Regions from separate parts of the Homo sapiens genome. Here region 1 is linked to region 2. Evidence: fine-mapped expression QTL. Tissue or cell type: whole blood. Region 2 holds a variant in brackets; the other region holds the start of a gene. All regions are shown on one strand. Distances are between the middles of the regions.

What was found. PIP is the estimated chance that this variant, and not a neighbour inherited with it, causes the effect.
Region 1: it holds the start of ACKR3, and the variant in region 2 is fine-mapped to the expression of ACKR3 in whole blood (INTERVAL, PIP 0.98).

The regions. Positions count from the first base shown.
Region 1 is chr2:236,567,643-236,571,854 of GRCh38, reverse strand. It overlaps ACKR3 (atypical chemokine receptor 3), which reads right to left and starts at 2,030. Exons shown (of 2, transcript NM_020311.3): 1 at 1,931-2,030. RefSeq lists enhancers at 2,794-3,669, 3,670-4,212 and a silencer at 3,971-4,020.
Region 2 is chr2:236,534,762-236,539,272 of GRCh38, reverse strand. It overlaps a transcript of ACKR3 not described here. Among named protein-coding and RNA genes, the nearest start is that of DRC11, 30 kb to the right of the region's middle. RefSeq lists enhancers at 1,010-1,059, 2,163-2,382. The variant G/A (reference allele first, on the strand shown) is at 1,916.

The DNA.
Region 1 (4,212 bases), 33 kb before region 2:
CACAAAAAAAAAATCTAAAGTTTTGCAATCTTTGAGGTCTTTTTCTTTCCCCTCGGTTACTCTTAAGGTTTATAAAGTGACTGCCCTTCAGCCTCAGGTTTGAGTGACTTCAACCAATTTCCCTCACGTCGACTTGAAAACAGGAGCTCTCGCCCTAAAATGATCACACAAAAAGCCACTGTTCCTGATTAAGCAGGGTTTTTTGTTTTGGGTTTTTTTTTTTTTTTTTTTTTTTTCATTCAGAAAGCCTATACTTGGCCTGTTCTGGGCCTGATTAGAAATCATAATACCTTCTCAACGCTTCAACGACTTGCTGTTAATACGGGGAAAACACACCCCCAAAGCCCTGCGTGTGTCGCACAGGCATGCTGCCTTGGCGATGCTTTATGGAACTTTTTTAAAACTACGTCTGCAATGTCTGCCCCTTAAAAGAGAAAAGCTGATGGGCAGCAAACTGCAGCCATTTCTCCATCTTCCTTCGCTTTCCCACCCCCATCCTGGGCAGCTTTCCCCTCCCCCCAATCTCCTGGAGGTTGTGGCATTAAGCTCTGCAGTTGTGTGCACATTCAAGTGTTTATGGCAGAGACTGGGGAAAAAAGAGCAAATTGTTTCCAAGCTAGAGCTCCCATGTGCAACTTTGCTTTAGAAAAGACTTTCCATCTGGGGAAAGCTCATATTCTGATGAAAGAAGGGCAAGCAGTTTATCCATTTAAAATCTATGGAAAGTTAAAGCACAGAAACCAGCAGCCTCCACTTTCTTTGCTAGGCGTGCCTAGCTGATGTCCACATTTTTCCTGGAATAAATAAAGGGACACTAAAAGCAGCATCTGCCTTTAAAAAAGAAAAGAACAAAGTTACCATGTTGAGACTTTGCAGACTGAAGTTTCAGGGGATGTCACTGCACCAAATACATTCAAAGGGCTGTAAACCATTTAAGGAGGCTCTCTCCCACTTTTGAAACACTAAGTAATCCTGTTGTGAGCAAAAGGAAAGAAAGAAAGAAAGAAAGAGGAAGAGAGAAAGAGAGACAGCCAGTCTGACTTTTACAACTTCTCATTCTCCCTGGAAGTTACAAGTCTTGGCTAACCACCCATCCCTGACCTCACTCCAAAGTTCTCTCAGTCACTCCTTGAATCTTTGCACATGCCAACAAAATTGAACAAAATCCACATTTTACCTGAAGAGTATATTTAAATTGCAAAATAGTAGATTTGTGTGTGTGCTTCCCCCAACCCCAATTGAAGTTGGACTTAACACCTTCTAAGAGAACAATACTCAAATTAGATTAGCAAGCGTGCCATCAAGAGAAGAGAAGACCGGGCTGTGTTTAACATTCACGTTTATAGCTTCCGGACTTACAGACTCTGGTAAATCCCCCAAAGTACTGAATTCAAATACATCTTGGACTCACAAAGATTCTCAGCAGTTTTCTGCTCCATTTAAGGATGCCTCTTAATAAAGTGTTCATCATTCTGGAATTACGTATTTACTGCCAATTTTATCTGTTTCCAAACTGATATACTAGAAGCAAAACAGGTAAACAGTGGGTGCCAAGCTAATCCCCATGCCAAATTGGTCAGGCAGAATGGATAGTCTGTGTTCTTGCAAAGTTCCCCTGCTTACTGGAGCTTAAATAGCCACACAGCAAATAAACACCAGATTCCTAAATACACATGGAAATTTCCTTCTGCAAGTGACTTAAGAAAACTGCCCTTTGCTTTCTGAAGAGAAAGGTGAAGCCCTCCGAATTAGCAAAAGCACTTTGCAATGCAGCTGCGTGCAGCCTGGGTTTTCAGAAACCAGACCCGCAGACTCAAAAGCACCCATCTGAGCGATTTTAAAGAAGGCCTTTGAAAAGACCACTTGGCTTAAGAGCAGAAGCCGTGCCTTCTTTCCGAGCAGAGCTGCTGCCCGAGCACCGTTTCCTTACCTCCGGGCTGGCTGGGCTGGCTGGGCTGGCTGGGCTCGCTCGCCTTCCTGGCTGTGCTGTGCGCTGGCTCCCTTAGTGCTGAGCACTTTGCAACAACTGTGAGCTCTGCTGGCTGCAGACTTGCATTATATACACTGCAGAAAGGAGCCTCTAGCCTCTAGATGGCAGCTTTGTAACCCACATCTCTCTCTCCCCCGTGCCACCCCCATCCCACAGGCAGACACACACACACACACACCCCCCTCTTGTAAACCTCACTAGTCTGTTGTTTCCTGCACAAGTGTACTCTTGGGAAACCCCAGCCTTCTTTCATTTGCAAAATCTGGTGAAGCCACAAAGTCCAAACCCCACGGGGGGAAAACGTCAGCCAAAGACAAACTGCAAAGAAACCCTAGTGCTTGGCAAAATCATCAAATATTTATCTGGTCTCAGGTATATCTTGAATAATCCCATTAACACCAAGAGCTCCTGTGAATGCCTCTTCGCTCTAGGGAGGACTTTGTTCCCAAGACAAATTACTCTGAACTTCTGAACTTCGATGTTGATTTACTAAGCCTGGGTTTTCCTTGTTAATTCCTCCAAAACAGAAGTAACAGTTTTGGTATGACCAATGAATCGATGCCACACCGTATATCCCCAAAGTGGAGAAAAGAGTCTTTATAATAGATTATACTTGAATACTTTTATTTGTAAAGGACTTTAAGTACAAAATCCTTGAGACTCTAATCAAGATAGTATTCTACAGTGTCTGCCCAGTGCCAGACACGCATTAGGAAGATAATAAATGCCTTTTGATAATGTCTTTTTCTGAGATGAGTCTGGCAAACACTTTACTACAATTATTGCAATCTACATTCTTATTTGGATGCGTATTGCTAAAGTTCCCCCCACGGAGGAATTCAACCTAAAAATGTGATCCAGGTGATACTCATCTCCAATGCCCCATTTACAAAAATCGTCCATAAGATAGGGACCCAAAGGCCACCCGCCAGCCCATCCCATGTGCAATGCTCTGGCTTTCGTATTGCTTTCTGATCTCCTGGAGTTCTTAAAGAGCGGCTCAAGTGGAGTGTATGAAGGCACCAGCTGTATTCACGCCTTCTCCAGAGCTAAAACTTTTCGAGATTCTTTTTATACTTCTACTAAAAATAACAGCAGACGCTCGGTCCCAGCGCTGAATCTGGGGGACTGGGAGGTCAAAGTCTCACGTGGCTAGAAAGTCTCCGTGTGGAGAAAGCCCTTAACGAAAGAAATATTTTGTTTAGCTAAAAGCTTCACATTTTTCTCCTGAACTGGCTGCCCAGCGGGAGGCGAGGTGCACACCTGCTCTCCGGGGGCCTCCGGAGGGGTCGCCCTGGGGCCGGCCTTTCCCAGCCCGAGCGCAGCGTCCCGCCACCGCCTCTGCAGGGCGGCGCAATCACTCTTCGTGTCACATCGGCACCAAGGACATCTCCAGGCTCCCCAGAGACGCTGGAAAGGAAAACTGCCAGCGGCTGCGTCTACCCACACCCAAGATCTAGGCGAGACCTCGACTCTCCACAGCATACGTGTCCTGACTTTTTCTGTCCTGTTTCTTTCTTGTGGGGGACCCTGTGTCTGAGCCCGCTGGAAATGTACGGGGATCCCCTCTGGACTGCAGCTCGGTTTCCGCTTTCTGTGGCTGTAGCCGTGACTCCGGGGCCTGTCCTTCAGAGAACGCGCTCCGCATTGCAGAGCCTGCGCGCCCGGTGGAAACACAGAGTGGGTGTCAATCCGTTCTGAGCTAAGTGTACTGTCGCTGGAAGAAAGGCCACATGGGCCGGGGACCCCGGACAGGATGCTAACGTAGAGGAAGGAAAAGGCAACGCAGTTTTTTTAAAAAGTAGAACCCGCTTCGTGCGTCCGGGGCCAGAATCCACGAGGCCGCCTTGCAGCAGCCTGCGCCCTGCCCCGCCAGCCCCGGCCCCGCGCCCACCCACGGCCTGCACCCAGCCCCGCACCCACACACGGCCTCGCGCCCTCCCACAGCCCCGCGCCCTGCCCCGCACCCACCCACGGCCCGCACCCACGCCCTTCCCCGCGCCCAGACTTGTTCCGCACTCACGCACGGCCGGGCACCCGGCCCAGGCGCCTGCGAGAATTCTGGCCCCGGGGTCACCGCCCTCGCCCTTCGACGTCCCCCACCCGTCCCCTAGTTCCGCCGGGCGGGGCTGCTGGAGGCTTCCAGACGGGGAGGGGCGGACCAAGCGCCAGCGGGGAATGGGGCGGGGTGGGTCGGGAACTCTGGCCAGGCTCCCACCCTG
Region 2 (4,511 bases):
GAGAGAGAGAGAGAGAGACACACACACACACACAAATGTGTCTATCAAAACTCATAGAAGTATTATTCACAATAGACAAGAACTGGAAACAACCCAAAGGCCCATCCAGACGTGATAATAAACTGTAGTATTTTCTTACAGTAGAATACTACTCAATAATAAAAAGGAACAAACTACAATAGAGGCAGCAACAGGGATGAATCTCAAAATAATATACCAAGTAAAAGAAGCAAGACACAAAAGAAGGCATACTGCATCATTCCAGCTACATGAAGTCCTAGAACCTGAGAGCACAATCTATAGCCCTGACCAGAAAGGTGAGCCAACACAGCCTGTCCGCGCCTACTTTGCCCTGAGCTAGAGTATCCAGGCTTAGCAAATAAAAATACAGGATGCTCAGCTAAGTTTCAATCTCAGGGAAACCACACATCACTTCTTAGGATAAGAATATCCCAAGCAATATCAGAAATATGCATGACATCTACCTGCATGGAACATACTTATACTGAAAAACTATTCCTTGTTCATCTGAGATTCAATTTTAATTAGGCAGTCTGTATTTTATCTGGCAACCGTGCCTACACTGTAGTTTGCTGTTGGCTTTTTAAGGGCAGGGCAGATATCTACTCATCAAGAGGTCCACTAGACTTGGTCTTACCCCAGCCACTTCTCAGAAGACAGAAAGCAAGCTCTGCCCCGGTCCACCTTAGAACTGCAGCCCCTTTCCATGCTTGGGGCCAGTTTTGCCATTGATTTCTCCAAGGGACTCCTCAGTAGGAGGGTGGGGGTGGCAAGTCTTGCCATCCATCCAAGGTCAGGGTGGTGAGCCCACAGCACCTGGCTTCCGCTGTGGCCACAGACAGAGCCCAATCTCTGACTCGGATGGATCCTTTTGACCACGTTTTTAGTATTTCAAGTTGTGAAAATATATCATCACTGTGTTGCTGTTTCATTTCGGCAATCTGTGTCTGTTCTGCTTTTCTTTTCAGGAGACATCTAAAGCTCCTGTTACTTTGCAGAACACACTCAATAACAGTTAATCAAGTCAGGGATTATGGCCACACAAGGTTTTTAGCAAGTTTCTGAGAAGTCAAATACCAGGTGTGATGTGTGCTAGTATTAACCACGCTGCCCAAGGAAAGGATCTGGCTTATGTATATTGCTTTTCACGCTAGAAAAAAAAAAGAAAACAAAACCTCTTTGAATCAAGACCTGTTAAGAGTTGTTTGGGGAATTATTTTTAAAAGAACTATTCTTTTTGGAATACCTACTTCCAACATAAACACTTTCTTATTAGGTTATTTTTATTTTTCTAGCCTAGCAACTAAAAAAATGTAATCTGCAGAACTGATTGCCTAATAGAAGCACATTTGCTTGCTTGCTTGAAAGAGCATGAATACGCATTAGTGAAAGAAAGAAAACTGAATTTGATAAGAACATTAACCCTTTTGGAGAAAATGCAGACAAAAGTAAAGGCGGTGGAAGAGAGCACGTGGGTGATGAAGCTGGGACACATTTTCCCTCCCTCCAGTTCTTGGAAAATTCCTAATTCTGGCTCATAAGTAATAGTAGCAAAAAGGTAAAAACATAAAATTAAAGCAGCCACGTAAAGAGGCAAAATTCTTGGGATTTAAGCCATTCAGAAGGACAAGTTGTCCAGGTCTCAATGTGTACAGAGATATCCAAGGGGCCCTGTACCACTTGCATTTATGCCAGGGTGGCCCAATGGAGAACTGCTGTTCAAACTTCAGGGTCATGGATTATTATGACACTAATAAAAATGATGAACCTGCTTCCTAGAAAAAAGCATATGCACCCATGGGCCCATACATTTACAGGCCATTCGAGAGGCTGAGACACTGCCCCAAGCCTATTCATGGAGCCCTGGTAACAATCCTTGTACTAGGCAAAACCA[G/A]CCTCCTTACCAGCTTCTGCCTCCTCCTGGCTCATCTCCACCAGCCGCTCACACTTAGGACCAAGGCAGGCTGCCCCTGGGCTTGACCTTGGCCTCCTCCATTCTCCCTGTCAGCAGGTGGCAGCCATCCCATTGCTGGTATTCCTAGAATCCAATCAGGATTAGTAGACCGCTTGCCACAGTGCTACACAGCCAGGTAACACCGTGTTTAACCAAGCAGTGGTGAGAGATTTGGGGCAGGAAAGGGGCTGAGCTTCTGCAATGCAGACAGGCAGCGTGGAGCCTCCCAATACCACTTCCTGCAGGGCCCAGGGCAAGGCCCTTGCTCTCTCTGAGTTTCTGTGTCCTCATCTGTAAATGGGAATAATAACAGTGACTGCCATAGGAGCTGCAAGGAGGATGAGATGATATTATGCATATAAAAGTGCCAGACAGTCTCTAGGCACCTAGAACCCTCAAGGGGCCAGCTGTCATAACTGCCGACAGTTCACATGCGTCTGTGTTTCACTATTAGTTTCACTTCACACCTGCAGAGGGATTTACACACTGCAAGGCATTTCCTTTGGAAATTTATTATTGTAATTCCCTATTAACTCACAATACCCAGGAGATAGGAAATAAATTATTATTCCCATTTTACAGGTGAGAAGACTAAGACTCAGATAGATACGTTAGGTGAGTTGCTTTTCTTGACTCCCAAAGCTGGTACCTTCCCCCGGAATCAGGTCATCTAGCAGAAACCCAGGAATTGAAGGTGATCAATGTTCCCTCCCCCAGATAGAAAGACATGGGTTACCCACAAGCTACAACCAAGTTCATGAACAGTGCAGAAGCCTTTCTTGTTCCCGTCATATCACAGAGCTCTCTGCTTGAACTCAACGTCACGGCTTCTCATCCCACCTTTTACTCCAGCCACTGTGGCAGCAACAAGCTTCCTGCAGGAGGTACCTGTGGGCACCTTTTCTATGACACACGCATGGTGCCCACACAGCCTGGGAATGACTCTGTGTGGCAGCCCTGGACCAAGGGAAGGCATGTACTGGATGACGGCTCCTCCTTCTGTCCTCAGGCAGACCACTCTGAGAGGCAAGTCCCCCCCAGCTCCTCAGTGCCCAGTGGATGGGATCCGGCAGCCCACAGTGGCGGCCAGCCTGAGGAAGCACTGTGGAAGACCTTGCCCTTCTCCCCACTTCACTCTCTCAGCCCTGCTCCTGTTCCCTGATATGAGCTCCCCGAACAAACCCCATCATGCTAGGCCTAATACCTGGGAGGAACCCAGTCTCCAGCAGGAGCCCTTGCTCTTGTCTGTCTCCCTTTCCTCCCACTGCCCTCCCCACCATCCTCTGCACCCACCTCCCTCTGCTGGCCCAGCTAGGGGAGCCTACCGGACACCAAGAAAAACCTGTCTTTATAAAAGCTGCTGTGACTCAGGACTCAGAAGGTCCCCTACTCCACTGGGGCCTATCATGAGGTAGAGAATGGGAGGAGAGAGAGGACCAGGAAAAATAACAAATGCGTACTAGGCTTAATACCTAGGTGATTAAATGATCTGTACCACAAACCCCCCTGACACAAGTTTACCTATGTAACAAACCTGCACATGTACCCCTGAACTTAAAAGTTTAAAAAAAAGGACTCCCCTCCCAAGGGACTGGATCCCAACATCAAAGTTCCATGACTGATTGCCTGACATCAGCACTCCCCTTCCTCTGGAAGGCCCCAGCTTGAGATCCGGGCTTTCTTCCGTCATGGCCAAGCCAACTCTGCGGGGACAGAAGCACTGCTCCTAAACCCCCACCCCAGGGCTTCCGCCTTTCCACCCAAGGCGAGAAGCCAGCAACCTTCCCCAGCTTCCCTCGGATTCCTCCTTCCATGCGTGACCTTGATGGGAGGCCCTGACACTTCAGCCAGGGTAGTCTGGTGCCAATCTTGACTGGAGTCAGACCCACAGGTAGCTGATTTATTGGAGATAGAGTCTTCTTAGCAAGCCTCCACTTTCGGTTGATTCTACACCCAGGGCCTCACACACACCCATGCCTGCCTCATCCTGACCCACGGGTACAACACCAGGTTCATATCTGCCATGTTTGCATCAAGCACACCGCCAAGCTCTGCCTGTGAAACATTAGAAATACAATGAGTAATAACCACAGCATTCCCTGGCCTGGCTCCAAAAACACTGCATTGCTCCAAATCTGCTCCATCCTAGACCCCCAACCCAGTTTCCTGCTGAGGTTTCGGCTCTCTTCCTGACCCCTTCCGTGAGTGAGAAAATATGTGAATATGGAACTACAGGACTGGAAACAAGCATCCACATTTGCTAGAAAGTTTCCTCCTCAGAGCCGGAAGGGCCTGGAATCCTATGGAATTCAGAATAACCAGAAATGGACAAAACCTCCACTCGAATGGATGAAATTCCCCTGAATAATAATGATGGGAAATTGCTTGCCGTGTCCCAACAAGCCTTAGTGGGTCCCGCGGAAGGAGGCCATGGGGATGGAGCTTCTCAACCCCAACTGTCCCCTGTGAAAGCCCAGCCTGGCTTCTTTTTAGTTAGGATCCCAGCTGCATCCCAAGAGGCTGTCCAGGTCATTGC